3 separate regions of the Homo sapiens genome follow, and all the other regions are linked to region 1. The links come from fine-mapping of genetic effects on gene expression. A gene starts in region 1. Each other region holds a variant in brackets. All regions are shown on one strand. Distances are from middle to middle.

The links. PIP is the estimated chance that this variant, and not a neighbour inherited with it, causes the effect.
Region 2: its variant is fine-mapped to the expression of CEP126 in prefrontal cortex (ROSMAP, PIP 0.95).
Region 3: its variant is fine-mapped to the expression of CEP126 in whole blood (TOPMed, PIP 0.92).

What each region holds. Positions count from the first base shown.
Region 1 is chr11:101,909,686-101,920,761 of GRCh38, reverse strand. It overlaps CEP126 (centrosomal protein 126), which reads right to left and starts at 5,752. Exons shown (of 11, transcript NM_020802.4): 1 at 5,350-5,752. The coding sequence starts at 5,477. It overlaps ANGPTL5 (angiopoietin like 5), which reads left to right and starts at 4,240. Exons shown (of 9, transcript NM_178127.5): 1 at 4,240-4,743. RefSeq lists an enhancer at 5,734-5,833.
Region 2 is chr11:102,004,893-102,015,968 of GRCh38, reverse strand. No RefSeq gene overlaps it. Among named protein-coding and RNA genes, the nearest start is that of CFAP300, 37 kb to the left of the region's middle. RefSeq lists enhancers at 3,847-5,046, 5,332-5,958. The variant T/C (reference allele first, on the strand shown) is at 4,101.
Region 3 is chr11:101,949,472-101,960,547 of GRCh38, reverse strand. It overlaps CEP126 (centrosomal protein 126), which reads right to left. Exons shown (of 11, transcript NM_020802.4): 5 at 2,182-2,380. It also overlaps the pseudogene LOC100418997. Among named protein-coding and RNA genes, the nearest start is that of ANGPTL5, 38 kb to the right of the region's middle. The variant A/G (reference allele first, on the strand shown) is at 6,752.

The DNA of each region.
Region 1 (11,076 bases):
TGGTGGTGTATGCCTGCAGCCCCAGCTACTTGGGAGGCTGATGTGGGAAGATCGCTTGAGCTTGGAGGGGGTTGAGTCTGCAGTGAGCTAAGAACACGCCACTATACTCCAGCCTGGGCAACACAGCGAGACTCTGTCTCAAAAAAAAAAAAAAAAGTTCATTGAATTACCGTGTAATCACATTTAGTACCTCATCATTAGATGTAGAAATATATGAGATTATACTGAAGTTATAGATTGTAGGGCATATCTATTTGTCTTTTTTAGAACAAACAGCTTGTTTAAAAACTTTTTACGCTAAGATGGAGGTCCAAAATTCTCTTTAAAGGCTGCATTTAATCAAGATTGTAAAAATCTCATAAATTGATTATTAATGGTAAAACAGAATACTAGAAATACACTCAATAATAAACTATGCGGTACATAATTTGTTAATTCAACATGTTAATTTCAGGATCCTATAGTGCTTCAGCATCAATATTATAAAGAAACTCTATTATTACATATTTCAGAATAACAGGTTTATTTGAACATTTTGTTGTTTAGACCTTTGCTGATGGGGGCTTATTTGTTTTCTTTTGTGTTGCTATTTAACCATCTTTATACCATAGGCCATAATTCATTTTACCTTCATTTTAAATAAAATTTTACACTACTTCAAGACAAAGACCCAAACACACTCACAAACATATTTTTACTTAAAGATTTCTTTTAAAGGATTTATAAAAATCAAACCAAAAGGGAAGAAAATTTGGTTCTTTGCTAGCACAGAAAAACTGTTTTTCTCTGATAGAATATTTTAACAAGAGCCAGACTTCAACAAGATGTCTAGGTATTAAAAGTGACAACTCGGCAGTAAAGAAAAGTGCAACTTCCTTTCAGGGTGCACAGGGCCAACATGAGGTTGAGGGGAGGAAGATGCTTTGGCTTAAGTGAGAAGCAAGGAGGAGACAGTTCTGTTCTCTGTTTGACATGTTTGAAGTCTCATCACGACAGCATAAAGAAAATCACAAATGTAATGTTTGTAATGTTCTGACAACTATATAGTCTTCAATTTAACCAAATGATTTTCTACTTTCTTTATATATAAGTATAATAGTATAGTATGTTTCCTGCTGAATTATTAATTATTAATATAAAGAATCCTGCTGCTTTTGTATCATTTCAAATATGGTATTCAAGTTTAAAAAAATTAGATGGCTGGTTAAATTTTGTTTTTTTATACAAGCTGTATGGTAAAGGTAGGAGTTCCATAAAAAAAACACTGCTAAATACCTGTCCAAAAGAAGGGAATTTTTATATACTTAACATTAAAAAAACAAAACCAAGAATAATATGTATTGTAACATGTGATTTTAAAGCATAGCTTATTCTACCCCACTCTATCCTCACTTCTCCTCTCCCAACTTAGTCTTTTATCCAGTTAGGTTGTTTAAAATGTTGCCATCACAAATAACTATGTATTATATAACCCATTTTTTCCCCAAATCTATTAAAGCTATGTTGATTCGATTTTTCCTCTACTGTACCTTCTTCCTCTCCCTTAACTCAGGTACTCTAAATCCCTTGCTTGGACGACTACAGTGCTCCTCTAATTCTTCTTACTCTAAACCTCTATTTGAACCTACACAAAGTCAGCTAAATGCAAATCTGATTGTGTTTCTCTTTGTTGTTCTCCAAAAGCTCCCTATCACCTTCATGAAAAATTCCAAAGTTCTTGGACCTATATATAAACCATTCTATAATATAGTTTGTTTTTTCAACTTTATTTCTTAACATTTCCCTGTATGAATCCTATGTCCAGACGCACTAAGATAATTATAAACAGAACAACCCGTGATGTATCATACCATTATCTCTTGGCACATGCTTGGCTAACTCTACTCATCCTTTCAGGGCCATCTCAAGCAGTTCGTTCTACCTTGAAGCCTTTTCTAACCTCCACTAGATGACTTGATGACACCTTCATGAGTACATGATAAGTGTCTTCTCTACATTTCTGTAACTCTCACGCCTGGCATGGTTCTTAGAATATAGTAATGATTTAATAAAAACCTCCTGAATTATTCCCTTGGAGAAAATTCTCTGGGGTAGATATGAGGACAAAAGGCATATGCATTTTTATATCTTTTAGTGCATTATAGAAAACTTGGCTCCTAAGGGGGTTATACAAAAGTATATGCCATTAGAAATGTATTATGTACCTAAGTTTCAAAATCTCATGAGCATGGGGCAGTACCTTTTAGAAACACAAGGTACAAAACTATGTTTTATTATGTATGTATTAGCAAAATACAATTTATTTATTTATTTATAGACAGGGTCTCACTCTGTTGCCTAGGCTGGAGTGCAGTGGCATAATCTCGGCTCACTGCAACCTCCACCTCGCAGTCTCAAGCAATCTTCCTGCCTCAGCCTCTTAAGTAGATGGTACTACAAGCATGCACCACAACACACAGCTAATTTTTGTATTTTTTGTAGAGATATGGTTTCACCACGTTGCCCAGGCTGGTTTCGAACTCCTGGACTCAAGCAATCTGCCTACCTCGGCCTCCCAAAGTGCTAGGATTACAGATGTGAGCCACTGGGCCCAGCTGAATGGGTTCACTTCACTTTCTATAGTAAAAGTAAGATCCCATCAGTGAGCCTGGGGGGAAAAAAAGACAGGTGGGTGGGAGTGTGTGTGTTTGTGCTGTTTGTTGGAACAGACCTGTCAGGGCATCCAAGTCTTATCAAGTGGTAAGACAGTCTATCGAGTGTGATGGAAGGTGACAGAGACCTGGCAGAGGCATTCATAGGAAAAAGAAAGAACCCTGTTCCTGTTTAGGTGAAGCTGGAAACCATCAATCTTTAGTGGTACAATCTGTATTGTTTTGTGATTTTTCTTTGACAGCATTTTTATTATTCGCATGAAGGAGTAAAGGAGCAGGACTATAGTAGTTATTGAGTGGCTGAGGCAGAATGATTGGGGTACAAATAGCCAAAGATGTTGGTGAGAGAAAGTTCAAATAGTTAAGAATAGGGTATAAACTGGAGAGGAAAGGAGAGGCAAGGTGGGTGCTAGGATAAAATGGGAGGGTTGAAGGGTAGAGATATTTATGAGGAAAAAAAGGCAGGTATAAGGGGACATGAGAGACCTTCCTTTTTTTTTTTTTTTTAAATTCCATTTCTATTTGAACTCTCAAAAGAGAAAAAGAGATTGAAATGACAGAACTTTAGCTAATTTTAATTAAATAAACTTCATAAGGTTTTGTTGTTTTATAACCTTTAGAGTCAGAAAATTCTGACTCCAGTGAGAAAATGTCTTCAACAGAAAGCCAGATGGCCTCTGAGTATCATGTTCATATTTGAAATTGAAATGTAAATGTTACCACATACTTGCTTATTTTAAGGCTGTGGTCCTTTCATTTGCTTTCTTTCCTTTTTTTCATTTAGTCATGTAAATTTGAGCACCTACTCTGTGCTAGGTATCCAATGGGAAACATTATAGACACAAAGAACATTCCAATTAAACTTATATAAAAGGTACTTTAGTGTTTTTCCAGCTAGCAAACATAATGTTCTTGATTTAGTGTTATAATCTTTATTATGTTCAAAAATAATTCCTCTGTTCCAATTTAAATATATATTATCTAAACATATATATACACACATATGCAAACTAGCAAAAATATATATAAACCAGCACACACACACACACACACACACACACACACACACACACACACACACATTGTTGGATTTTATCAAAGTCTATTGGTCATCTATTAAAATGTTCATTTATAACTTGCCTAATTTTAACTATATATTTAGCCTTTAAGGATCTTTTTTAGTGTTGTATTTCTTTATAGGAAATGTCATTCTAATTCTGGAATAGAGTCTATTTGGTTGTGTTCATTCAAAGTATTGCTGGATTCTATTTATGAATATTTTCTTTGGCATTTGTATCAAAAATTTATACCACATAAAATTTAAAAAATGAGGCCTACAACCATTTTATTAATGAAAATAACAGAAAATACACTCTCAATGAGCCATTTACAATACTTCCCTATTTTCTGATTTAGAGATAAATCAGGGTCGTGTAATAGCAGTTGTGTCCAAGAAAATATAATGTCAAGAGGCCAGAATTAAATCCATACAGAAAATGATTGTGTTCATTTCAGAGTAACCTTTAAGAGGGCAATTTTGGGGAGCAGCAAGGGCAAAAGCCAAACTGAATGGGGTTAATAATGAATAGATGAGAGGAACTAGAAGCAGCTATTGCAAGCTACCATTTTGAGAACCTGCCCAAAGAAAGAAAAGACTGAAGGGATGGAAGATTGCAGAAAGCATGATCGGAGAAGAGATATTTTACTTTTAGTGAAGCTCTATACACATTTGTCTTCCTCACTAGATTTGTATCCCTAGAACCTAGAACAGAGTCAGCCAAAGAGCAGGCACTCAATACAAATTGTTGACTTGCTGCTAAAATTGTAACAGAGTACAAAGAACATCCTAGAAATTGGAGACAAAGGGGATAAGAAAACAGAGTTAACTTGGAAAGAGAAGACACTCATCTCTGACAAGACTGAAGATGATTACACAACACCATCATTGCCAACCAAGTCCTTTGGGAATACAAAGGTTAAATCCTAATCATCACAACAGTCTCTAAAGGAATAAACCTGATTTACAGATTTTGATAACAAAATACTTCTCCTCTTTCCATTTTCTACAATGCAACCAACAGCAACATCAAAGGTAGGCTTAACCAACTCTTCGAGAAAAGTCAGAGTTAATCCAGATTGTAAAGCGTCCAGGTCCCCTGTTTCTCATTTCCTCTTTTCTGTCGCTCTGACAACAGACTGGGCAGAGATGGAAAACAAAACAACTTACCAAACTGTGTAGCCTTTAGCAGCTCTGGTAAATGCATTTAGGGCTGTGTTAGGATAACTGTTAAAACGGACTCTTTAGGATAGCAAAACATTTTACTTATTTGTGTAATTTCTCTCTCCAAGTAGTACGATAAATCAGGAAGTAGTTAATATGTAAGTAAAGAACATAATGGCATAAAAATATCCCCACAGAATACACAGTTGATGTGTTTTAAAATTCACAAAAATTTTACAAAGTTGAAGAATGGGAGTAGGATAACAGGGTGATGGGGGGAAGCAGCCACAGAATTAGATAAAATGGTATAATTTCAGGTCTAAGGTGAGACACGACAGTTGCTAAAGGAAATATCTGCACTAAGATGACTTGCTAGTTTTGATCACCCTGCGTCAAAGGTAATGGGAATCTAATTGGAAAAAGATGGGCCCCGTTTTCAACATCGCTACCCTGGCAGCCACAGGCTGGGAAGGATACAGGTAAGAGCCAGGTCGGTGATGCCCGCCGCTCTCCCGAGGGCCGAGGGGGGCTCTGTCGAGGTTGTCCGATGATTCAGTGCCCAGTTCCCCGACCGCGCTCCGGGTTCCGGGCCTCCCCGCCAGCATCCTTCACTTCAGCGCCGCCTGTCTGCTCGCCCCCAGAACCTCCCTCATGGCAGCTCCGGCTTCCTCCTCCTCCTGCTCGGCCCCTCCCTACACTCCGTCTCTCAGGCCCCGCGTCACGGGCGCGGAAGGGTTGGCCTCGACAGCCCTAGCTCCCGCGCAGCGGCACTGGTGCCTGTAGCGGCGATGGCAGCTGAGGCAGCGGCGACCTCGCCGGGCAATAGCAGATGGGGCGGCAGCAACCCTGCAGCCGCCATCTTGACAACAACCGACGGCGCGTCCTTGACAACGGAAACCTGGGAGGAGCTACAGGTCGGGGCGGGACGATGTGCCCGAAGCAGCCAATCGCAGGCTCCGGCGGCCCCTCCAGCTTCGAGCGGCGGGTGGCAACCCAAGCATCCCTAGGGACCCGGGTTGTTGCGCGAGGGGTGAGCTGAGTGTTGTTTTAGAGCCTGATGCAGTTCTGCCTCCCTTTTTATGAGAGTGTTTTTGTGGCAGTACCGACAGTGACGAAAGACAGATGTAAAATCCTCAGATACAGGCAATTGCCACCGGGAGGAGTCTGCAGTGATTGTCTGGGGGACAATTTGGAGTTGAATTTGTTAAACTACTGAATCCTGTTGTGAGATTTTGAGTTGTGAGTCTTTCTGTGGCATCATCATCCCCAAACACCGTCTCTTTAAAATGTCTTTGTGAAGTGGAAATTTTCCTTCCCTGCATTCTCTCATCCACTCGGTAATGCTTCTGGCATTCCCTCTGCAGTCGTCTTCCTTGCCTTTGCCCTACTTAGAAGGTCTACATTTCAAAGCCTCCTAATGGTTCTCGCATTGCTGCCAGATTCTGGAAATGGACCATCACAGCAAAACTAGCAATCTCTTGGGAAGATATGCCAAAAGAGATCATCGCATTGAAATGGTTTTGGGAAGTATGGAAAATTAAATGGATTTTTGAGACACTAGTTTATTGGCTATGCAAGTGACAGTTTTGAAAAAGGCTGAATCTTATTGTTGGAGCCTAATGTAAATGCATATATAAATTCTGACTGTATTTCAGTCAGTGTTTTCTTGGAAAAATTCCCAGATTGGAAGCAGAAAGTACAGACCAAATAAAGATTATTCACCCACCATTCAAATGTCTCTGCCTTTGTGAATTAATTTGTTCATTTTAAGATTTCAAATAATAAACTTTTCCAGTTGAAACTGTTTAAAACAATCTTTGCAAACTTGGTTGCAATGACTCAAATTGGAATGTACACTGGCGACAGATTTTAAAGTGCCACAACAAATCCAGTTTCGATTTAAGACACAAAACACATGAACTCTCCTTCAGAAGCATACCAACAGGATAAAATATACAATTCTGACATGAAAAGCTAAATGTATACAACTGGACACTTGGCTATCTTGGCAAGTTTTTAATTGGCCTAGCCACAGGCAATGGCCTTGATTCTATTCCCACTGCTGTCATCACACGTTTGTCTCCCCATGGGTGATCTGAGTAAAGTAGGGCAGTGCAAAGTACAGATGAATATGAGAATATTAGAGTTGCTATTTGGAATATTTAGGCATGGTTAGCTTTCCAGAAGTCCAGCTTTTGCTATATTATTAGTTTGCGATCTCGTAAGTCCTAGGCATCTCACTGCTTTGTGGCTTGGTATATTAGCACTAAGAAGCATAATTTGGTTTCTCAATTGCCTATAAATCCTTTCTTACGTTAACTTAAAAAAACACGTAATTTATGAATCTAGAAAGGAGAGGAAAGGGTTACAGCCTGAAAGGAGGGCCATCCCACAAGCTGGGAGTGTGCCTCCAACTGAAGCCTAAAGAGGCAGGTACTTTGAAGGAGGGATGTTGAGGTAGGAGATTTATGCTGAAAAGTTGGCTAAACATACATAATTTATAGGATATAGGAGGAGCTATGAATATTTATGAAGGTAGTTCTGATGCATGTATATTGAACAAACAGTAACATATGACCCATGTTCATTTTGGGCTGGAGACTTAACATTTAATTGCATTACAATTAGGCCCTATTATGTCTAAATTTTTTTTAGGACACAAAGGCACTCAAGTGAGCAGTCCTCTTAAACTGGCCAGAACCACCTCATGGTTGGTGATGTTCTCATCAGGAGAAAGTTATTGAAATCAGTCTGTTGTCCAATCAAAGCTGTAGTTATGGCTTATGGAACAGAGGGTCAGTTAGTCAGTGTCTGGTGGTGAGCTACGATTGTTTTACTATTGCTTATCTCAAGGCCAGTGTTTGTTTAGCTGCTAGAGAAAAACAGAAAACTTGTGGAAGTTAAACATAGTTTATTCTTTAAGTGTAGGAGTGCATGACTTAACCCTTGCCTGGCATGGCCTTAGGTCCTATTTGTAATTTGATATCTTACTGCCACCAAGTGTCTGTTCCGTCAGTCTAATGATCTCTACTTTAACGTTAATCCTGGTCAATTGTGTCCAAACTACAACAGGAAGAGGATATAATGAGGCATAGCTGACCTTCCATCCCATTATGGCTGGGAACTCAGTTTTAAGGTTTTCCCAGGGTCCCCTTGGCCAAGAGGGGGTCTATTCAGTCAGTGGGGGCTTAGGATTTTATTTCAGTTTAGACTTATATAATTATTCTTCATTCAAATATTGTTTTACGGTAACAACCAAGAAGAAAAGAAATTTCAAACAATGTTGCCAGTTTTTTTAATCATAGGTTTTTTCGACCTTTAAATTCTTTCTTTATTTCTTCAAAATATTAAGTGGGTTTTCCACATTCTATTTAAGTTGTAGAATCCTAGATTCTTATAGAAAGGCAGGGCCCAAGGGGCTCTGAACATCATGATGCTTGATTTTGTCATGACTTTTTTGTCAGTGTTATTTATGGAAAAAGGCTTTAGGATTAGATATTTGGATAATAAAAAATTTGAGGATTTTATCAACTTCATCTCTTGACAGGAAAGGCAGTTGTGATTCAAGCAGTAAAGAAGAATGTTACCCTAAAATCCCTATTTTTTATCAGAAGGGGCATCTGAATTAAATACAATGTTATATTCTTTCACACTTTAAAACCATAAAACAATTCCTTCTTTTGCTAAGGAAATATATATTGAGCACCTACTATGTGCCAAGCACTTTCCAGGTGCTAGGGATACAGTGAATAAAACTTCAAAGTCCTTATGTTCGTGAAGCTTATATTTATTTTTCTTCCCCACTAGAACATATTAGGGTAGTGAAAAGTGCTACATGGAAAGTGGGATAGTGAAGGGGGATAGAGACCAATGTCAGTTCTATCTGTGAGAGGGTGCTCAGGAAAGGCCCCAAAGGAAGGGAAATTAGGACAGAGGTCTGAATGAAGGAAAGAGGTTGCCATTCAAATATCTGGATGAAGAATAAGGGCACAGGGGTCTGTGAGTACAGAAGACTGTGAGGACAGAATCATACTGTTGTGCTCAAAGAACAGCACAAGACCACTGTTGCTGGAATAGAGTGAGGTAGGGTGTATTAGGCAGTTCTCGCACTGCTATAAAGAAACACCTGAGAGTCGGTAATTTATAAAGAAAAGAGGTTTTATTGGCTCATGGTTCTGCAGGCTGTACAGAAAGCATGGCAGCATCTGCTTCTGGGGAGGCTTTAGGGAGCTTTTTACTCATGGTAGAAGGAAAAGTGGGAGCAGGCATCTTACATGGCAGGAGCAGGACTGAAAGAGAGAGGGGAGGTGCCACACACTTTTAAAATGACCGGATCTCATGAGAACTCACTTACTATTGTGAGAACAGCATCAGTGGGGATATCTGCCCCCATGATCCAATCACCTTCCATCAGGCCCTACCTCCAACATTGGGGATTACAGTTTGACGTAAGATTTGGGCGGGGAGGCCTGGCATGGTGGCTCACGCCTGTAATCCCAGCACTTTGGGAGGCCAAGACAGGTGGATCACCTGAAGTCAGGAGTTTGAGACCAGCCTGGCCAACATGGTGAAACCCCATCTCTACTAAAAACACAAAAATTAACTGGGCGTGGTGGCAAGCGCCTGTAATCCCTGCTACTTGGGAGGCGGAGGAAGGAGAATCGATTGAAACTGGGAGGCAGAGGTTGCAGTGAGCCGAGATTGTGCAATTGCATTCCAGCCTGGGTGACAGAGCAAGGCTCTGTCTCAAAAAAAAAAAAAAAAAAAAAAAAAAAAAAAAAAAAAAAAAAAAAAAGATTTGGGTAGGGATGCAGGTCCAAACCATATAATAAGGGAAGTGTGCTAACATATGAGATTGTAGAGGTACATGGCCCAGATTTAGTGGCGACTTGTATTGTATGCAAGGACTTAATGTAAAATCCAACTTTCAATGGAGGGAAATCCATTTGAGAGTTTTGATTAGAAGAGTAACACAATTTTATTGAACCTTTAAAGAGACCCTCTAGTTGTTGTGGGGAAAACTAGGTTGTAGGAGATAAGACCAGAAACAATAAGGACAGTTTTAAGGTTACCAGAGATGGCAGACTTGGACTAGGATGGTAGCAGTGGAGGTGGCAAGAAATGTTTACAGTTTGAACCTTGAGCCAATAAGATGTGTTGGTGGATGGTTGCAGTAAGCGAGAGAAAAAAAGTCAAATGTGACTCAGATTTTTGGCTCAAACAATTGGATAAAGTGTGTTGCCATTACTAAGATGGGAAAGAATAGGTAGGGGTGGAATAAGGAATACGAGTTAGGCTTCAAACATGTTAAATGTGAGATGTCTATTAGACATGCAATTTCATTAATGTGGTCTCATAAATCGTTGATGTTTTATTTACAAAGGAAACTAATAATAACCACTTTATGGTTATAAAGCATATTCACATAACTTATCTAATTTGAATATATATATATATATATATATTTTTTTTTTTTTTTGAGACGGAGTTTTGCTCTTGTTGTTCAGGCTGGAGTGCAATGGCATGATCTCGGCTCACCACAACCTCTACCTCCCGGGTTCAAGCAATCCTCCTGCCTCAGGCTCCTGAGTAGCTGGGATTACAGGCATGCGCCACCACGCCCAGCTAATTTTGTATTTTTAGTAGAGACAGGGTTTCTCCTTGTTGGTCAGGCTGGCCTCAAACTCCCAACCTCAGGTAATCCGCCCGCCTCAGCCTCCCAAAGTGCTGGGATTACAGGCGTGAGCCACCGCGCCCAGCCTGAATATTATTTTTAGTATCTTTAGAACAGAAAATAAACAGAATTTATTTGAGCAAAGAATGATTTACGAATTGGGCAGCACCCAGAACAAGAAGTTCAGAGAGCTCCACCCAGCAGCATGAGCAGCAAGATTTTGTTGGACACAGAAACAAAGTAGAGGAATCATGTGATTGCCTACAGCTAGGTGTTTATCTTATTTGGGTATACTCTGATTAGTTGGCTGCCTATGATTGGCTGAAACTCCACTATTTGTTACAAAAAATATACTCCTAAGTCAGGCTGCAGTTTGCTACAGAGGAACTCAAAGTACAGAGACAGCCTCAGGCAATGGCCTCCTGCTTATTTAATTTAACAAGTATTATAACCATGTGGCAGCTGTGATGGACAATTTTTTTGTGCTTTCACTTTTGTCTTGGCTGAGGCTATTTTTTTTTTTCCATCTT
Region 2 (11,076 bases), 95 kb before region 1:
ACTTTCATTTTTTAAAATCCGAGATAAAATGTCAACAATACATTGTTATTCACATTTTTAGTTATTTTATGAATCATTTGTTTAATTGTGGTGTTTGACTTTTATTAATTTCTTAAAACTCTGTATATTCACATATTATTGTCAAATTATTGCAATTTCATTGCTTTAAAAAAAGCATTTTAATTGTTTTTTGGCCCAGTGTGGTAGCTCATTCTTGTAATCTAGCACTATGGGAGGCTGAGATGGGAGGATTCCTTGAGGACAGAAGTTCAAGACCAGCCTAAGCAACATAGCAAGACCCCCATCTCTATTTAAAAAAACAAAACAAAAAAACCAAAAATGTATTGCTCAATAATTATTTTGAATTTAAAGTTTATCAAAGTTACAGATAGCTTAAACATAAAATACAAGTCTTATTATTATGGAATAATTAGCAGTATCCCTCTCCATTTCTTCTCCCTAGATAATATTCTTTTAGCTTTTTCTTATAGTATTTACTTCCATATTTCTAAATAACATGCTTATCCTGTCATTCTTGGTATTTGTTTCATATATTACCTGTTAACCTCTTAGTATATTCTCTACCTGTCTCCCTCACACTTCCCATTCTCCCAGCCTACTAAAATTCTTATTAATTTTTGTTAGATCAATATTGAACATTTGCATTATTATGACTAAATATAATTTTTGCTGTTGTCATCTAGTATACTATGAATATTTATTATTCCTTGTTCACATTTTTGTTTTGGTTGTCATACAAATTATGATTTTTCTGTTTAGTTTTCTACGTAATTTATCACTAATTCTTTCTCTTCCAGATTGCACACATCCTCTTAGTAACTCAAACTTAGTAGATTTCCTATCAATTTTATCTTCTTGTGGCCATTCCTTCTGTACTTGTCTTGACTGGTTGCTTTGTAGGCTTGCCGCACAGCTGAATTTTTCCTTTACCGTCACCCTGGGGATTTCTGTTTGTGTTTTGCCTTTTCCTTGTTGCTCTGCATCCTTTGAGAACCTATCCTCTGGGCTGGGATGGGTTTCAGAGCACCTCAGCTAAGGTCTTTGATCAGTTATGCTCCGTAGCTGGAGGGCTGCAAAGTGCATTCTCATGGCCACTGCAGCTCTCTTGCCTCTCAGATTTCTTATCTTTGTTTTCTTGGTTTACTCCCTTGTTTTAGTAGATCGTATCGTCTAGTAGCTTAAGAACATCATGGCCCAAGATCCCGCTTCAGTAGTCCTCAAATATTTGGTTATTCCCCTTTCCTCAGTGTATTCCCACAGAAATGACCATAGGTCCCTTAAGACAACGACTGAGGGAATCTTTGCAGTATATATTTCTTGGGGGAATTGCAGGGTCCTTCTTCCTGGAGACCCGGCCATCTTATCATTTAATGGGTTTCAGTTTAAAAATAGGGGCCGGGCGCAGTGGCTCACGCCTGTAATCCCAGCACTTTAGGAGGCCGAGGCGGGTGGATCACGAGGTCAGGAGATCGAGACCATCCTGGCTAACACGGTGAAACCCCGTCTCTACTAAAAATACAAAAAATTAGCCGGGCGCTGTGGCGGGCGCCTGTAGTCCCAGCTACTCCGGGGGCGCTGAGGCGAGAGAATGGCGTGAACCCGGGAGGCGGAGCTTGCAGTGAGCTGAGATGGCGCCCACTGCACTCCAGCCTGGGCGACAGAGTGAGACTCCGTCTCAAAAAAAAAAAAAAAAAATTGGCTCAGGCCGGGTGCGGTGGCTCATGCCTGTAATCCCAGCACTTTGGGAGGCCGAGGTGGGCGAATCACTTGAGGTCAGGAGTTTGATACCAGCCTGGCCAACATGGTGAAACCTTGTGTCTATCAAAAATATAAAAAAGTAGCCGGGCATGGTGGCATGTGCCCGTAATCCCAGGTACTTAGGAGGCTGAGGCAGGAGAATCACTTGAACCCAGGAGGTGGAGGTTGTGGTGAGCCGAGATCGTGCCACTGCACTCCAGCCTGGGCGACAGAGCAAGACTCTGTCTTAAATAAAAAGGCTCAGGTCTGGAAACTGAGCAAGATATTATAATTTTTATTGGGACCACTGTCCTAAGCTACCTACTCCTCCATTCTTTACTTGTTTTGATTGTAGATGTTAAGTAGTACCCTTGTAGGGTGCCAACTTGTTTGGACCCTAGAAACTCCAAATTATATTCATCATTTCTACAACTGCCTGACAACCAAGCCCCCTCTGCTGCTTCTTTAACCTTGCTGGTTTTTAGAGTAACTGTGGCCCCTGGCTTCTGGCAGTTACCTGGTCTCTCTTACTCTGGGGGCTCATCATGCTCGCTACAATTAAGGAGCCCAGCTCTGTAATAGAGGAGGCTTGATCTCCTCTCATACCTTCAGTCCTGGCCTACAGAGCAGAGCCACCACTGAAGTTCTTCGTGATATCAGTGCCCCTCTCTCACTACTCCTTGTTAAGAGCTAGCATTTACTCCACCTGAGAAGACCCTACTGAGGCCTTTCCACCACAAGGCAGCCAGAAACCCCTCACAGTTACCCTCCGTCTGCTGACAAGCAGATAACTAGTGTTAAATCCCAGCCCAATACAGCTGGGGAAGTTCTAGGTCTGAAGGATCTGCAAGAAGGATCTGCAGGAAGAGGCAGCAGCATCACTGAGATCTTGTTGGTTCCTGCAGTCTCCTAATGGTAGGAGAGATAGGCACCGATTTGGGAATCCAGTGACCAGGAATTCTTGGGGCTACCCACCCAGATGTTTCAGGGCTCTGGTCTTTTTGTGACAGATCTGCCTTGCCTGATAAATGCCTCTGCAGCTCCTTATTCTAAGTCCTATGATTGCCCCGCAGCTGAGCTCTCTTCCACTGCAGGGTGATAAGGATCTCTTTGTAAGCAATACCACCGCAAGTGCATCCTGGCTCTCATACTTAACCTTTAGTTGTTAACTGCTCTCAGTTTCTCATCACTCTGAAGGTTTTCAATTCAACTTAGTAATAACTAGCTACTGTCTTTGCAGGTGTTAGTCCCACTGCATCTTTTAAATGCCTGGATTCTTGAATTGGCAAGCCTGTTTTTCTCAGGGAATGTTTCCCCAGGTCATCACCTGTGAAATAGTGGCAGTCGAGCCACTACCTTGAGCCAGGGACAATCTGTGACCCACTCTCCACTCAGCATGGGGTTTTCCTTGCCATTCAGTGATTCCATCCCCAATCTCCACCTTTTAGCCTGCTTTCTTGGACTGTTCCTGGTACCAACTATGTCAGTTAAGTTCCTCTGAAAAGCAGATCTCAAGATGGAATTAGAGGTGTATGAGATTTATTGGGAAGAAACACCTGTGAAGGATAAAGGTTATGATGTTATGATGTGTGTCTGACACATGTGAAAAGAGCATGGGAAGGAAGAAGTAGCTCTGAAAAAGGAAGTCTTGCCCAGGCCTATTGAGGCACCCATATGTAAAGACTATCCACCAGAGAAGTCCCTCACTGGTTAAGAATTGTCTGTTTCTGGGACACCCACAATTTTCCACAGTCTTCCACAATGTTCAGTCACTGGGAACAGTCTGCGGGGAGAAAGGCATTGATGTGAACACCATGGTGGATGCAGGAGGTACAGCAGGTAGGGGCTGTCAGCCAACAGTCTCTTTTGCGCAGGTTATCTCTTGAAAGGAAATCTGAGCGGTGCGTGTTCATAACTACCATAGCTATTGTAGCTTGATACAACGCCTGCTTTGCTGTAAATCAGGTTTATTTGCAAGAGTTTTTATTTATTTTTATATGTATTTTGATTTTTAATATGTACTTTATTGATTTTTATATGTATCTTGTGCCAGTACCACATTATCTTAATTATAAGAGCTTTTGCTGGGTGCCATGGCTCACGCCTGTAATCCCAACACTTTGGGAGGCTGAGGTTGATGGATCACTTGAGGCCAGAAGTTTGAGACCAGCCTGGCCAACATGGCAAAATGCTGTTTCCACTAAAAATACAAAAATTAGCCTGGCGTGGTGGTGCATGCCTATAATCCCAGCTACTTGGGTGGCTGAGGCAGGAAAATCACTCGAACCCGGGAGGTGGAGGTTGCAGTGAGCTGAGATAGTGCCACTGCACTCCAGCGTGGG[T/C]GACAGAGCAAGATTCTGTGTCAAAAAAAGGAGAGAAAAACAAAAAGTCTTGTTATTTGATAGGGCAAGTACCTCCACGTTAGTCTTCGGACACAGGTGTATCTGGGCTATTCTTGTTCTTTCCTCTTTCACATAAATTTTTAGATCATCTTGTCAAATTCCACAAACAGGCCTTGAGTGTTTTAGTTGGAATTGCATTGAATGTTTAATATCAATGGGAGGAACTGACATGATATTGAGTTTTCAAATCCAAGGATATGGTATATACATCCATTTATTTAAATCTTTTAAAATGTCTTTCAATATTTTAATCTTTTTTCCAGAAAAGGCTTGCATATCTTTTTAAAGATTCAGAGTTGGCATTTTAAATTTGGTTATTTTTGTAAATGGTATCTTTTAAAAAGTTACAAATTTTTTTTTTTGGTCGTTTCTTGCTGGTGTGCAGTCGTGCCTTTCAAAACGGACCTACCTTGAGGCAAAGGGGCCAGGACTTCATGCCCCACATCAACCAGGCATTGGATAAGGGCGGCCCTCAGGGACTGGGTGTGGCCCCGTGTGAGGAGTCTCTTGGCCTGCGGGAAATGCCTGGAGAGTGACTCAGCTGAGAGCTGTCAGCCGCCGACATTCCTGTCAGCTGGGGAAAGACTCCTCAGGTCCTGACGGGACTATCTCAGCAGCAAGCCCTCAGCAACCACTAAATGCCTTCTAATGGGTTAAAGAAATTCTCGTTTATTCATAGTTTTAAAGTTAAATGTTCCTGCTTTGGCAAAAGAAGGAGAGTGGTCCAGCTGTCTTGCATGACATTTGGATCTGGGGTTTAACTGTTTGTCTAACAGACTTCCAACTAATCATTACTGTTTCAGTCTTACCTTTACCCCCAGTTTGCAGAACTACCGGATGACTTTCAAACCTGGGCCTTTCTGGTTTTGCAGGAAAGACTGGCTTGCTTTAGGCTTCCCCTACTGCCAGCATAGGTTTTAGCTTTCTTTGATTATCTAAATCAGTTACCACTTCATCACCTGCTTTCTAACCTTCCAAGTTTTGGCGCTGTCTTCCCTTGTTTTCTCTTTGTCTTGTACTCCCTCCTTTTATTTTATTATTACTTACAACAATTGAGACATCTAGGGTATCTCTTTCTCTGTTTTTTTGAGACAGAGTCTCACTCTGTCGCCCAGGCTGTCGTGCAGTGGCGCGATCTCGGCTCACTGCAACCTCTGCCTTCCGGGTCCAACCGAATCTCCTGCCTCAGCCTCCCGAGTAGCTGGGATTACAGGTGCCTGACACCACGCCTGGATAATTTTTTTGTATTTTCAGTAGAGACGGGGTTTCACTAGGTTGGCCAGGCTGGTCTCAAACTCCTGACTTCAGGTGATCCGTCTGCCTCAGCCTCCCAAAGTGCTGAGATTACAGGCATGACCCACCGTGCCTGGCTGCTATCTGTCCTTTTTAATCCTTGTGATTTAAGTAGGGCTTCAGGAAAGAGCAGAGGTATAATAATGCTTCCAATTGCTCTCTTGCCTGAAAGCCCTGTTTGATTTGGAGATTTATGAAGTATGGGCAAAGCAGGCTGAGTTTGACACATGCTGTTTCTAATGCCTGAAATTACATCCTCTTCCATCCTTGCTTGTCTAACCCATCCTTCAGCCCTCACTTTGGTAGTCACATTTTCCAGAAAGCCTGCCTTCACAGCCCAAGTCCTGGATTAGATGGCCCTTCTAGGCAATCTCATTATAATCTGTGTTCACTCACACTTTGCTGTAATTGCCTGTTTGCCGGTCTTTAAGATCTCATAGGCTAAATGTTTTGATTAGTGGGATTGTATTTGATCTCTATTGGAGTCCCTGGTCCCAAGCATAGAGATGATTTAAGAGGTACTCAGTAAAGTTGTATTGAGTGAATACGTATTACATAGCTTTGAATTGATTTCTGATCAATGCAGTAACTTACAAAGTTCTCACTTTCTGCAAATATTTTTTTCATTCTTTCTTTGCTGGGCTGGAGAAACCAAAAAGGCAAAATACTAGTTTTATTTCCGTGGACATTGGAAGCTTTAACTAATGTCATTTAAAAAGTACTTGGATTTCATCTTTAATATGAAGAGTTAGATGGAGTGGCTGATGTATAAATTTCTTTCTTTAAAATTATTTGAAATTCTTGGAAAGTTTTCTACTTAATCTTTAAAAAAAGGCATTGTAAAAAATCTCTGGAAGAAAGGCATTATGACAACGACTGCATATACAATAAAATATGAGGATAAAATATTAAAAATGGAAAAGAGATTTTTAATGAGTTTTAGGTGTTCATAAATATTGTTTAGGTCATAATCCATTTTAGGAAATATAAGCAACATTGATAACTTTGGCAACCTTTTAATATAAATTAATTTAAAATTGCATATCATATTTACCATTCTGTAGAGCAATACTCTTAGTGCTTTCATACTTTGCAGTCAAAAGTGCCACTGTGCCTGGCCTGGATGGCAGGAAGATTGCTTGAGCCCAGGAGTTTGAGACTAGCCTGGGCAACATGGCAAGACCCCATCTCTTTAAAAAAATTAAAAAAAAAAAGGGCCATCCAATGGAACAAAACTCAGACTGATGTAACCTTTCCAAGATAAAGTTCTTGGAGAGTTTGTTTTGACTGATACTTATATACAGGAGATAACACAAAATTATACCTACTCATCTTCTGATTCTGAAGGTCCAGGCCTCCTTTTACGAATATTTGTAGATAAGGAATACCCTGGAAGATGCTTTTGTGACAAGCAAACTCATCCTCCAGTATAGAAAATCTGTTACAGGGTCTGTAATTCAGCTACACAGGACATCTGGAAAGGCAGACTTTGAGGGGCATTCTTTCTCTTTCATGTGTACACTTTTATCAAAGGAGACAATTTCATTTGCTTTTAATTTTTTTGGACTTCTCTGAAGTTACACATGCACAATGTAGATAGTGTGAAAAATATAAAAAAAAAGTATTAAGAAAAAATGAAAATCACCTGGAATCTGATTGCAGAGAAACCACTCCTGATATTTGATTGCATTAATTTCCTGGCTTTTCTTTCTTGATGTGTTTATTTCCTCCCATGGTTGAGACACTCTAAGTATAGCTCCAGGTCCCTCTCTTTCCACTTAGCAACGAATCATTGTTATTTCTTTAATTCATTAAATATTCTTTGAAAATATAATTTTAATGGCTGTGTAATAGTCATCATATAAATGTACCATAATTTAACAGTTTCCCTGTTTATCACCTTATAGAATGTTTTCTTATTTTTCCTATTATAGCAATAAGCTATATTTCATAACTTTATTGTAAGTCTTGTTATGACTGAGGAAATTCAGTCTGCAACTCTGAAGAATGAAAGTAAACACAGATTTGTAGTAGAGACTTTTTTGAGGTAATACATGTGAAATGTATGTAAGTTACTAATAGAAAAGATAATATATTTGGTAGGTATGATTAGTATTAGTGTATGGGGAATTTTATTTGTATTATTTATATTATCTGTATTGTTAAACTTAAGCAGCCTACTATTTCAGAAAACGTTAAATCATATCTACTTTCAGAATAAATTAAATCATAAACCATAGTCTATATGACATAGTTAATATATTAAACCAAGTGTTCTCAGAGAACACTCGTTGTCAAACTGGATGGCAAGCTATTAGTGGGTGAAGATATATTATTCCTTGTAACCAACATTTTTTTAAAATAAAATACAATAGAATATAAAAATATCAAAGGGCATGCCTTAGTTAAGTTTTCTTACTGGAAAGAGTGAAAGCTACTGGCATTGACTGATAGAAAAGTTTATTGTTTTATAACCACTAGAGGGCAGTCATTACATTAGTTTTAAAAAAGGCCAACTAACAGCTTAATACAAGTTGACCTAGTTTTACAACTGATTATGATAGACATAAAATTACATTTAAAAAGATTGTCGGGCTGTTAATGTACTGTTATTTGAGGACCTATTACATGGCACACATTGAGTTAGGGAGACATTGATGAATAAGACATGTTCTAGAATGCAGTGAGAAGGTAAGTGTGATATTACAAGGCAGTTATGCATGTCATTTGGGCTTATGTTTGCCTTTCCAGCCTCATATCCTGCCACTCCCCAACTTGCAACCTGAACTGCAATCATGCTGAGCTACTTGTAGTCACCTTGAACATACTGTTCTGTCTTCCTGGAATATTTTTTGTGTCCCTCTCTGCCTGGTGAACCGCAACTTATACTTTAAGCCCCAATATCCTGACTTTCCCAGACAGAAAAAAATATGTGCTTTCTCCACTTGACTCCTTTAGGGTCAAGTTCAGCCCTATTACAGTTGATTACTTATGTCTCATTCCCCCAGGAAACTGAACTACTGGAGGGCAGGGAATATATCATTCATTTTTTTTTTTTTTTTTTTTCTGTAGCTGGGGTATAGTGCCTGGCACATAGACAGTGCTTAACATAAATATTTAGTCAATAAGCAAATAGAAGTGCTATAAAGAGATACTGTAATGAATTTCTTTCTTACATAATCTCTCTATTGATCTTCTACCCTCTCATTTTGTATATGCCACTAACGTAGCAGCTATTCAACCGCCAAAGCAAACCAAAGACAGACTGACTTATTGATGGTGAGGGAGGGTTAGGCTTTATTGAATATGAAAGGCAAAGGGAATTTTGGAGGATAATTTAGGTTTCCCTAGTTATTTTCCCCATGATGACTTGCAAGATTATATTTACTTTAGGAATACAATAGCTAAGACTAAATAACCTTTATTTTTCCATCCCTTCCTTACTTTCGCAATATTTACTTGGCCAAGTAGGTAAAGTGGTTTTGTTTGCCATTTGGCTAGCAGCTAATGATGCTGACACCTTTGGTATTAAGAAGACAGGGTGCCAGCCGGGTGCGGTGGCTCACACCTGTAATCCCAGCACTTAGGGAGGCCAAGGCAGACAGATCACCTGAGGACAGGAGTTCGAGACCGGCCTGGCCAACATGGTGAAACCCCATCTCTACTAAAAATATAAAATTAGCCAGGTGTGGTGGTGAATGCCTGTAATCCTAGCTACTATGGAGGCTGAGGCAGGAGAATTGCTTGAAACCGGCAGGTGGAGGTTGCAGTGAGCCAAGATCGCAGCATTGCACTCCAGCCTGGGAGACAAGAGTGAAATGCTGTCTCAAAAAAATAAAAAAAAAAGACAGAGTTCCTAGTACATTCCACTGGTAGGCTATAAAAGCTTAAAAGATTTAAAGTTTCAGTATGTTCTAAGTGCTCATGTGGCGAATTAAACAATTCTCCACCCAATTGGTATATGCATTTGTTTATAAAAGGTTTCGTTATATGTTCACCTTAGTCATGTTTGTAAAAAGTTGAAAAAATATTTTTAGCTAATTCTAAATCTTGTAAATAAGCCTATACTCATAATCATCTGGAAAATTCTTCTCTGAAAAGAAACCTTGGCTGGGCGCAGTGGCTCATGCCTGTAATCCTAGCTCTTTGGGAGGCCGAGGTGGGTGGATCACTTGAGGTGAGGAGTTTGAGACCAGCCTGGCCAACGTAGTGAAACCCCGTCTCTACTAAAAATACAAAAATTAGCCAGACATGGTGATGGGTGCCTGTAATTCCAGCTACTCGGAAGGCTGAGGCAGGAGAATCACTTGAACTTGGGCGGTGGAGGTTGCAGTGAGCCGAGAAGGTGCCCCTGCACTCCAGCCTGGATGACAGAGCGAGACTCTGTCTCCAAAAAAAAAGCTGGTTGTACATGGTAGAGGTTAAGTCAGTTCTAAAGACAGATAGACTTTGGTTTGATTCCTGGATATATCTTTCCCCACCTTTGCAACTTTGGGCACATTACTTAACCTTGCAACACCTCAATTCTCTTATTTGAATATGGACATAATAATAATGCTTCATGGGGTTCCTAGGAGGATTAGATGAAATCCTGCATATAAAGAGCTTTGCACAAGACTTGGCATATTAAAAGCTTTCAACAAACATTAGCTGTTGTTATAGGAAAAGGTCTTTATTGCAAGATAAAATCTTTTTTTTCTTGGCATGTAGACATTTTTCCATTTCAAATAATCAGCTCTTAATGGTTTTTTTTCTTCTACTGTGGCAATAAAAAGGAGTATTTTTGTCATTTTGATAAGACATATACCATAAGCAAATGAGTGCTTGTGACTGTAAAAACCTTGGTGGTGAAGCCTCCCCTGTGGGATGCTGCAGCCCAGGGACAACTGTATGGACCTCAAAAAGTCTCCCACACTGTTTCCCCATTGATAGGGTTTGGCTCTGTGTCCCCACCCACATCTCATGTTGAATTGTAATCCCCAGTGCTGGAGGTGGGGCCTAGGGGGAGGTGATTGGATCACGGAGGCAGTTTCTCATGGTTTAACACCACCCTCCATTGGCGCTGTCTTCACGATAGTGAGTTGTCATGACATCTGGTTGTTTAAAAGTGTGTGGCACCTTTGTCCTCTCTCTCCTGCTCCTGCTCCTACCACGAAAGATGTGCCTGCTTCCCCTTTGCCTTCTGCCATGATTGAAAGTTCCCTGAGGCCTCCCCAGAAGCTGAGCAGATGGGAGCATCATGCTTCCTGTGCAGCCTGTGGAAACACGAGCCAGTTAAACCTTTTTTCTTTATAAATTACCCAGTTTCAGGTATTTCCTTATAGCAGTGCAAGAACAAACGAATCCACCCATCTAGCCACAGAGTTCGTAATCTTTACAGCCACTGCAGAGGCAATAGGAAATATTGCTGCAGTATCAAGCACCTTGAGGATCTTTTACTACTTTGATGAGATGGAAATTTCTCTTCTTCAGTATCATTGATATTGGGCTTGGAATGTGGCTTTGAAACAGACTGTCTAAATTATTAACTTCTGTGGGCAAGAACATTGCTCTGTATGATCCATATCAAGTGACATATATATATATATATATATATATATATATATATATATATATATATGTA
Region 3 (11,076 bases), 40 kb before region 1:
TTCTTAAAGTGATAATCACTCAACCCAAACAGGGAACAAAACAAAGCATAGCTACTTCAATGCCTGTTCTTGGAAATAAGTTGTTTTAACTGATAATGATGATGAAATCAGGCCTGGAAGGCATCCTTTGAGGTTACATCTAGTGAGACACAGAAATTTGCGTTAGAAGATCCTTCTAGATATAAGTATGACATCCATGGCTCTAAGATTTCCATTTGCATAGGTCTGTAATTGCTTCATCTCCCAAATCACCTCAGAAGAAGTTTGGCAACTTCTGATTTCATAAACAATACTTTTTTTTTCTTCAGATTTTTTCCCACCACTAAATAATGAAACATTATGATCAATTTCAAGTTTTGCTTATAAGTTACATTTAGCGGTCCGTCTTATCTTTATTGCCCTGCATGTAACATATCTTTTTTCCCTCTGGCTTTAATCTGATTTTTAGGTGCCTTTCTGTGGTATGTGTGTGTGCATACACTTATCCTTCTTGGAGTTTGTTGGGCTTCTTGAGTCTGTGGATTTATAATTTTCATCAAATTTGAAACATTTCCAGCGATGGTTTCTTTAAACATTTCCATTCCTACTTTGTGAAATTTTATTTAAATTTTATTTTTAATTAAATGTGTTGATGGCTTTATATGGTCTCACAGGTCACTAACAAACTGTTCATTTTTTTCCAGCCTTTTTCTCCCAAAGCTTCAGCTTGGATAATTTCTATTGCTATGTTTTCAAGTCCACTAATCTTTTGTTCTGCAATGACTGCAATGTTAAGTCCATCCAGTCAATTTTTCATTTCTGATAGTATGTTTTTCAGAACTAGAAGGTCTGTTTATTTCTTTTTTCAATTGTCTTTCTTATGTACATTTTTACTTTAATTCCTTGAAAATATTTGTAAAAATACGTTAAAATTCCTTGTTGGTTAATTCCATCATCTCTGTTATTTCTGTCTGATTATATTGACTACTCTTCTCCTGGTTATGCGTCATATATTCCTGATTCTTCACATGTCTAGTAAGTTTTGATTGAATGCTGACATTGTGAGCATTATGTTATTGAGTATTTAGATTTCATAGTCTTCTTTAAGAAAGTGTTGGCCAGGCATGGTGGCTCATGCCTGTAATCCCAGCATTTTGGGAGGCTGAGGCGGGCGGATCATGGGGTCAAGAGATGGAGACCATCTGGCCAACATGGTAAAACCTCGTCTCTACTAAAAGTACAAAAATTAGCTGGGCGTGGTGGCGGGCACCTGTAGTCCCAGCTACTCGGGAGGTGAGGCAGGAGAACTGCTTGAACCTGGGAGGCGGAGGTTGCAGTGAGCCGAGATTGCACCACTGTACTCCAGCCTGGTGACAGAGTGAGACTCCATCTCAAAAAAAAGAAAGAAAAAAAAAGGAAAAAAGAAAAAAGTGTTAAGTTTTTTTGTTTAATAGGTAGCTTGGGTTACTAGTGGATCTTTTTAAGGCTTATTCAGGCAACATAACTACGTAGAAAGCCTAGGTTATAAGGCTTACATCATTTCTTTCCCCTTTTCAAGATCACATCCTGCACTGCCTCTGACCCATGTCTACAAGCAGTTGTTTTATTTATTTTGTTCATAATTATAGTTGTTTATGGTAGGAAGGCACATCACGATAGCTGCCAGGAATCTTCTGTTTTGCTTTCTTAGCCTTGCCACTGTTGATTAATTGTTGGATGAATCAGGCCAATGTTATGAATTTAATCTTATATTGGTTTATTAAAAATCTCATAAATGTGCATAATTATTAATGAAAAATAAAGTACATGGATGGACATGTAGGAAAATCAGCTGATATCTGTATTCAGTTGTGGAAAAAATAAAGTATATGCCCTACTAGGGATAGATTACAAACATCATTTCTAGCAAATTCTGCCATATTTCCATTAAGAAACTAATATCTACATGTATTATAATTTTCTGGTTGCTTTTTATAATACAATCTCTAACAATAATACATTACATTGTACTTTCAAAGGTAAGGAAAAAACTAAAAAATTATTTCTATAGTTTCTATGATGAATTTGTGCTGATTCATCCACACTGTCTTTCATGGCCTGCTCTCAGCTAGTAAGATATTTCTTTAGTGGAGAACACTGCAAAAGTGGAGCAAAATTAGTGCAAGGAATTAAAATATTAACAACATTTTTATAGTTTCATACTTGCAAATTGCTTAGATGTTGATCTTCGAGGAGTTTCTGAGTTTCCTCCAGTTTAAGCTGGAACACATTTTTGCTAGTAGCCAAGGTTGCCCTCATGTTTTCATTCATTTCTTTCTCACAATTGATTTTGGATAAGAGTTGTTTCTGATGCTTGTGATCATTTTTTGATAATGCGGAAGGCAAGGCAGAATCTATAGCTCTGTGAACCAGACATAAAAAGTGCTTAGTACATTTAAATAAAGTTAACTTCTTTCTATATGTATATACATGACACATTAGGTGTAATACGTGTGTGTTTGTCCAGATAACCACATATAAGGATATTGGAGAAATATATAGACATGTTAGAATGAGAATTTAAGGCAATCAATAGTAGAATAAAAGTAGTTGTGAGACTAAAGTACCAGTAAAGAACTCCACCTTCATATAGGAATGCCCAGTAATTCATGGCTTTGATTATTATAACCTATCCCTCTATAATCTGGGATAAGGGTAGAAGTAATTCCTGTGTAGAGTCAGTCCTCAGGTCTTTAAGAGCATTCCTATATGGATAATAATATACTGCATTACCCTTCTTTCTGAGTTGATGTCATGGCTAGTAGGTTAGGAAAAAACTGTAACCCTAATAGTGTTGGTTGAAGATTCAAGCAGATAGAAAATATAAAAATTGCTTGTCAGGGTCAGCAGGAATTTCCTCCCTATTTAACTAGCATTGGGAACTTGGATCGTCCTCAATGGAGGCCAAGTACTCACTTATTTTCAGTTATTTCAGGAATATAAACAGGAATATAAGCATGGTTTTTATGCCACAGAAGCGTACCCTTAATATAGAGTCTACCTTTACTATGCTAAAGGGCCATCCAAACATTTTCAGTGCATGACATCATTTTCTATTAGAATTTTGTATCTTCTGCAAATCTATAGCATGTTAGATTTCAGCACATATACAAAGTGAAAGCAAAGAACTAAAGAAGAGTTTTGGGGGAGGATAGGATGGGGATGAGACTACCATATAGCTGAATGCTGCTGCACTGGGGCTGGCAGTGTGAATCCAAAGAGCATTTATTCCTAATTCAATTAAATTATTCCCACTTTAATGAGAATAAAAATGTTTTGGAAGGTGATAGTGGCCACATGTGATATATACCTATTCCCTATCTCCAATATCCATATATATATCTTTATTTGGACAGACTGGAGTAGTCAAGGTCAATGATTACTAGATTAACTATCCCTTTGTGATCACACATTTAATCAGGGAGAGCAAGAAGGTATTTAATACAAGTTCCTGAACATTGAGAGTATGTTTCTGTCTCTTCCTTTTACACTTTCCTACTCTTAGATAATCCTTCCCCTTCAGTCGCCCTTCCCAAACAAAATATTGCTATATCTACAAAATATCTAATAAACTCAATTTATTTACCTTTAAAGTTGTCGTGTCTCAACTTTCTTCTCTATTCCTTTCTTCTCTACTCCACTTTCTTCTCTTCTCTTCTCTACTTTCTTCCCCCAATGAGGAGGATTGAAGGGGTGGATAGGAATAAAAGGAGATGGGGAGGTAGAAACAGAAGGAGAGTGAAGAATAGGGGGAAAGGAAGAGGAAATCATAAAGGAAGAAGAAACAGGAGAAACTGGAGAGGGAAAAGCTAAATAAGTTGGAGGCAAACCTGGAGAGGAAGATGAATGCAAAGGAGAGGAAAAAAGAGGGATAGATGAAGGAGGTAAGGATGGAGAAGTAGAACAGGAAGTCGAAGAAGAGGAAAGAATAGATGAGGAGGAAGAAAACAGTATACAGGCTGAAGAAAAGGATGTGGAAGTAGAAGGAGATGAAGGCAAAGAAGAAGATGGAGAATGACAGGGAGATGCAAGGGAGAGAACTGAGGCTGGTGGATGATCTGCAAAGGCCTCGGGCTGATTTGACAATGCTGTGGCTTGTGGAACAGATTGCTGGACTGACTGAAAAGGATCCAAGCTAGCAGGATGTGCAGGCAACGGAGTGACATAAGAAAGAGTGGGGACTGGTGGATAAGGGGGGTGACTGGATAAACAGGAAGGCTTCAAAACAGGGAGAGGTTCCAAAGGGGTTGGGGAAACAACCAGTGGAGCTGGAAGGGAACGACGAACAAGGGTAGGCATTAGAGTGGCTGCAGTAGAATGCTGTGCTGGAAGGAAATGTTTGGGTCTGAAAGTTTTGTAAAATAACTTGTGCTGTGACTCAGGGTCAGGAATGATTGGAGAACTCTGGGGTGCGTGGGGTGGATGGCCAGGTGGGCAAGAAGGAATTGGTGCTGGTAGACGAGGGAAACTGCTAGAAATGCTGGAAGTAGCCGGGGTTGGAGGACAAGGATGATATTTAATTGGGTAAGGCAGTAATGGGACTGGTGCAAAGGTCTTTGGAAGAGTAGAGGGTACAGATGGATGGATAGGCAGTATATGGGGCTGGCGGGCAGGAGAAACAGTTGGGTAGCTAGGAAGAATTTGGAAGTGGTGGGACCGCAATGGGACCCGTGGAGGAGACAGTTGATCAGGTAAGTAGGGGTCAGGTGTGGAGACAGCTGGACAGGCAGGAATGGATCTGCACAGGTGGAAAAGCATTTGGACAGGCAGGCAGAGAGACAGCCTTATTAAGATTATTTTTTTTGGTTTATTGGGCTGCCTCTAGGCTTTTGATTCATGTTATTTTCTTGTCCATAGGGTCCATGTATGATCATCCTTTGATCAACCAGTGTCCTCTCACATGTACTGAAAAACGTACATAGCTTATTCAGGTTCGCCATTTCTTATTTCTTGCTCTTAGAGTATTTTCACTTCTCAGAAGCCTTTTACTCACACAGATACAGGAATATGGGCTGGACAATCTGGTTTAAAGCATGAGTTCAAAGGGCAAATAGAGGTCAATAGATAACTGCTCAGCTCTGGCCAGATTTCTCAGTGTAGCACGTAGTTCAGGATCAACTGCCACACTACAGATACATGGATATTGGAGATAGATATCTAGCAGTATCATTTTATTAAAGTTTAACCATTTAATATGGGAGACAATATATCCCCTTTTACTTTACACCTTCCAGAATGGTCAAGCATATTAGCTTTATGATAAGGATTTGATGGTGACAGAAGACTAATTACTTCTTATATTTTTAACTTTACTCCCTTATTAATATTCTTATATCTCACTATTTGCTGAAGCAGCTTCTATGTTCATGAGAATATATTCTCTGATTTATCTTAGGGCTTAAGCACTAAATGCCCTGCACTTTATCATATATTTTTTTTCTCTTTTACATGATCAGATTGCCAACATCTTATTTTTATCTACCACTAACATTTTCCACATTAGAATAATCTTACTGATATACCTCTGCTTCTTTGTAAGCCCCTTATTTCTTGGCATTACTTTATTTCTTAACACATTTAGGTTTACATTCCACTGAAAATGTATTTTTAATGTGATAGTAGTTTATCAATGGTTTCAGCTTAATTACATTTTCAATAAATAAAAATATGTCCATTAACCTAACACCTGATTCTTAATATTCCAATATCTCATATTTATATAGAATTTCAAATTTTACAAAGCACTTTCATATACATTACTTAAGATTATTGGTTATCTGTGGAGAGAAGTCTAACTTTTTAATAAGTAAATCATAGTGTTCTCACTATACATTGTATACACTTGTTGTTTTCCAAATACATAGAATTTATGTGATATATATATGTATATATAAACATACACACACAGATAGATATAGATATCATGAAGTCAAAGTCAAAATAGTATGTTAAAATAACATGAAAACTAACTAGGTATTCTAATGCACAATGAAGATCATTTCTATAAAACAAAGATGATGTGTGTTATTTAATGATCCTAGCATAGACTTGCTGTAATCATATATACATGTTTGCTGCAGGGAAAGCAAAGTTGTTCTGACAGTTTAACTCTTCTAAGACTTCAAGCAACTGCACACTGTTGAACAAGAAAAACGCCTATGCTTTTCTTCATTCTACAAGAGTTTTTAAAAATTGAAAATATCTGTCTGGGCATGGTGGCTCATGCCTGTATTCCCAGCACTTTGGGAGGCCGAGGCGGGTGGATCACGAGGTCAAGAAATCGAGACCCTCCTGGCCAAAATGGTGAAACCCAGTCTCTACTAAAAATACAAAAATTAGCTGGGTGTGGTGGTACGTTCCTGTAATCCCAGCTACTTGGGAGGCTGAGGCAGGAGAATTGCTTGAACCCGGGAGGTGGAGGTTGCAGTGAGCCGAGATTGCACCACTGCACTCCAGCCTGGAGACAGAGTGAGACTGTCTCAAAACAAACAAACAAACAAACAAACAAAAAAGGAAAATAATTCAATTAACATAAAGTATAACAACTGATAGAAAAAAAAAACCTGAAAGTGAAGAAGCCCTGTATAGAAAATGTACATTGCTTCTACATTAACTGGTTTAGAATTTTTAAAATTAGTCTAAATAAATCCCGGGACTCCCTCTAATTGTTTGTCATCTCTTTTCAGACAAGCTTTCCTATAGAGTACTCTAAAATTATATTGACACATATAAT[A/G]TGGTAGTAAATTATATTACTACCACAACTTCCACTTGTCTCTTAACCCAACTGTTATCTGGCTTCCACCTCTATCACTTCAATGTACTACTTTGCTTGTGGTTAACTAATTACCTAGTAATTGCAAAAATAGGTATTTCTTGACCACTATCTTTCTTGATTTTAATTCCCTTGGTTTCCGCATCATCACATTTCCCATTTATTTTCTTACTTCTCTGGTTGTTCCTTCTCAGGCTCTTTCTTGAGCTCCTCTTTCTTTGCCTGTCCTTTATATGCTAAAATTTTTGAGTTATGTGGCTTTCTTTTTTTCTTATCTATATCCATACTTTCTTTGTAATCTTACTTATACTGTCTATGTGACCTTATCTATATTAGTGTGTGAGTAAAGGGTTAACAAAATCTTCTCCTTCTCTATGGACCAATTCAACTTTGAGTTAACTTTCTAAGTCTATTTCTCTGGATAATTAGTAGGATTTAAGCTGTGTTACAAGGCACATTGATTATGGTAAAAATGGCCCTTCATTGGTAAACCACATCTGGACTAAGAGGACTGCAAAGAAACCACAGGTATCTGCTAGAAAGCTATAGTTTTGAGTTTCCTCGAGTATGATAATTCTTATTACTGGACATATCTCTTCCATGGGAGAAATTCATATGGAGCCATTACAAAAACATTTGTTCCTGTTTAGAACATGGGGCGTCTTATCCAGAATAGGTAGATGCCTACCCATTGTGATAATGTAAGCATTATAAGCCTTAAAGCTGAGCTGTCACTTGTAGAGGGTAGAAACATAGCAAAAACTAGCCCCTCAACTGTCTTGTGGCCTTCTATAAGGATTCCTCCTATTGAAGAATGTTACCTAGTTGGCATGCACTGTTTTCTGGTCTCTAATTGAAGCCAAACAGCCTGGTACAGTTAAGGGAGTTTGATTGTTTAGCTGAATCTAAGAATACCACTGGCAGATACTGCCATGACTTTAACTTTATTCATTCATTGATGACTGTCATGTCTACATTCATGGCCCAGATTTCTTACTATAAGAAATTGGCTCTTGAATATCTCATAAGTGTCTCAAACTCAAACATGTCATTCTCCTTCCAATTACTTCCTCCCCTAAACCTATCTATTCTTCCCTCATATTCATCATTTTTGTTTTTTACTAAGGTAAGAACACTTAACATGAGATCTACCCTCTTAACCTCGTAGTCCTCATTTTGATAAATGGTTTTACCACTTTTTCACTGACCAAATCTAATCTCTGGAGTCATCTTTGATTCTTCCCAATCACTCCAGGTCTTAAACAGTTACCAAAGCATATTGATTGTACCTTCTAAATAGCTTTCAAGAAGTCATTGTTTTCATCAACTAAAGTGCCATTTTACCTGATTTTACTGCTTTCAGTGTTCTCCTTTTCTTTTCCATTCTGGCAATATTTCCAACCTATAAATATTGTGTTTGCTTCGAATCTTTCAGTAATTGTTTTTAAAACAAACTCCTTACCGAGGCTCTTCATGATCTAACTCACGGCTTCTTTTCCAACCTATCTGCCCACAACTCTCTTCTCACTGTACACATTAGCCAAATTGTGCTACTTGTAGCTCCCTTAACACAACATGCCTTTTATGATTCTATGCCTTCTCACATGCTAATATTCCTTCTGGTTGAAATTTCCTCCCAGTGTTTGTCTCAGATAAATACCCTCCTCATCTATCTAACTTCGGGCCACTTTTATACACTTTGAGAAGTGTTCACTCATGTCAGTGATATTTTTCCATTCAAGGTATTTATTGAATACCTCCAACATGAGTACTGAATTAAGCACTATAGGGAATACCTGCATATGTAAGACTGAGACACTGTCCTTTAGAATATTACAATCTGGTTGTGGGGACAAAAGTACACATGAAAATTAAGCAACAATATATACAATCATAACTTTCAAATCTATTTCTAGAGCCTTGGCCTCTCACCTCATCTTTGGTTAAATTATTTTTACACATTTCTACATGGATATTTATCCCCTCAATTCAGAAGGCTCAAAGGGAATTTTAAAAAGTTAATCACATTCCCTTAATCAGCAAGACTCAAAATATCAGTCGCTTTTTATTTTTTTGCTTTTTTTCATTTCCTTTGTCCTATACCAAACTCATCTATTCTTTTAATAAAATATCTTTTCTTTCTGCTTCTATTCTGTCTATTCTCCAATTCTTGTTGCTCTTCTTTCTCCTCCTCTTCCTCATCTTCTTGTTCTTTTCTTTTTCCTTCTCCTTCTCCTTTTTCTTTTGAGACAGGATTTCACTCTTGTTACCTAGGCTGGAGTGCAGTGGTGTGATCATAGCTCACTGTGGCTCCAACTCCTGGGCTCAAGTGATCCTTCTACCTCATCTCCTCGAGTAGCTAGAGCTACAGGTGTGTGCCAGCATGCCCAGCTAATTTTTACATTTTTTGTGTGTGTGTAGAGATGGGGTCTTGCTCTATTGTCCAGGTTGGTCTTGAACTCCTGGCCTTAATTGATTCTCCTTCCTCAGCCTCCCAAAGCACTGAAATTACAGGTGTGGGCCACTATGCCCAGCCTATACTTCAATTCTTATACTTGTAATTGATCAACATCCTTAAACTCTTATTTCTTTATGCTACTTCTCTGCACTGTGAAAGCACATTATCTTCATTCTTTCTTCTCTCTCATCCTCTCACTACTAAAAACCTTTTATTATCAGAGCCATCCTTTCTTCACTATACAAAATAGTACTGTTCTGGTTTAGGCAGTAAGGATCTATCCCTTGGGTTATTCCAATAATTTCCTCTCTGGTCTCCTTGCCTCCAATTTCTCTCTATCCTCTCTATTCTCCAACATTTGCACCATTTATCTTTCTAAAATAAGAAAGAGGATGCTATCACTCCCTGCTGAAAAACCTCCATTGGCTCCGCACTGGTTACAGGATAAAGTTCACACTCACTTGCTAGACATACAAACATTTTACATCTGATCACAATCTACATTTCTAGATCATCCCCTGTCCCATCAGCAACACATCCTGTAGTCCCGACACTCTGAATAAGTTCTATTTCCTCAGGGGTCTATGCCTTTCACAACACTGTAGCACTGCACATGCCTAAAACCCAACACATGCTTCTCTGATAAATCTTAACTCATTCTTTAAGACTACCTTCTACCTTCAATGCTGTACTTCTTTATTACTTTGCTAGTATTTCTGTAACAACCCCCATTATACAGTATTACATGTGTATTATGTTGTAAAGACCAACAAACAGTATTATAATGTAATTGCAAACCCTTGCTAGGCAGAGGACCATATCTCATTCACATGTGTAACCCATGCTAATCAGTGTCTAACACAGAATAAGTACTTTTGTATCCTACTCTACCTTTCTAGACTGCGATTCTGTTGCTCATCACTTTAATATTCATATTTAAACATCATAAGATCTTTTTTAAGGGAAAAGCCATATATTGGCCATACATCTCTTCTGGCTATTGTCCTATCACTCTCTAACTTTCACAGTCAAACTAAACTTGTTATCCTTTTTGCTCTCCATTTCTCTTCAACTCATTGCAATTTATTTTCTGCCCCCACCACTCCACTAAAATTGGTCTGACAAAAGTTGCCAGTAACTTTTTTTGTTGTGAAATACAGTGGACCCATTGTTTCTATGTTGGATATTCTCTCTTTGCCCTTCCAGATTCATTACCACATTTCTCTACTTGACTCTGCTCCAAGAGACTGAATGATCCCTTGCTCTTTGATTTATGGCTGAGTTTGGCCAGTGGAAGGTACCAGAAGGAGAAAGGAGGGTGACAGAAGAAAGAGGTTTTTGATAATTATTCCTCTGACTTCCTCCCTGCTGGGCTTGCTTTAGCAGTGGCTTACATTCCTCTCCCTAGGACCACAGGACCTGTCCAGCGTCCTTCTTCTACAGTATAGCTCTTTTCAGTTCAGGTCTGTGTTGGTAATACTGACTTTGTGTCAGTTCTGGGGGTGCTTTACCATCCTTTGTTGGTTTTATAGTCCCTTACTTAACCTCTCAGTCACCTCTTTTAAGTGTGCCTCCTGTTCCCTGCCAGGATCCTGACTGACAGACATTATGTGTCTGATTCTTTAGAAGTCATTTGATCTCTGTAAACTATTTTTTTTCCCATGAAAATTTATCCTTCCCTAGTTTTCATGATACTGACCTCTCCTAGTCCTATATAAGCCATTCTAGCCATTGTGTTTGCAAGCTTCTCTTCTTTTTCCACTTCCTTAAATGTTGCTGTTCTTCACTGCTCATCACACACATACTCTCCACAGTTGACCATATCCAT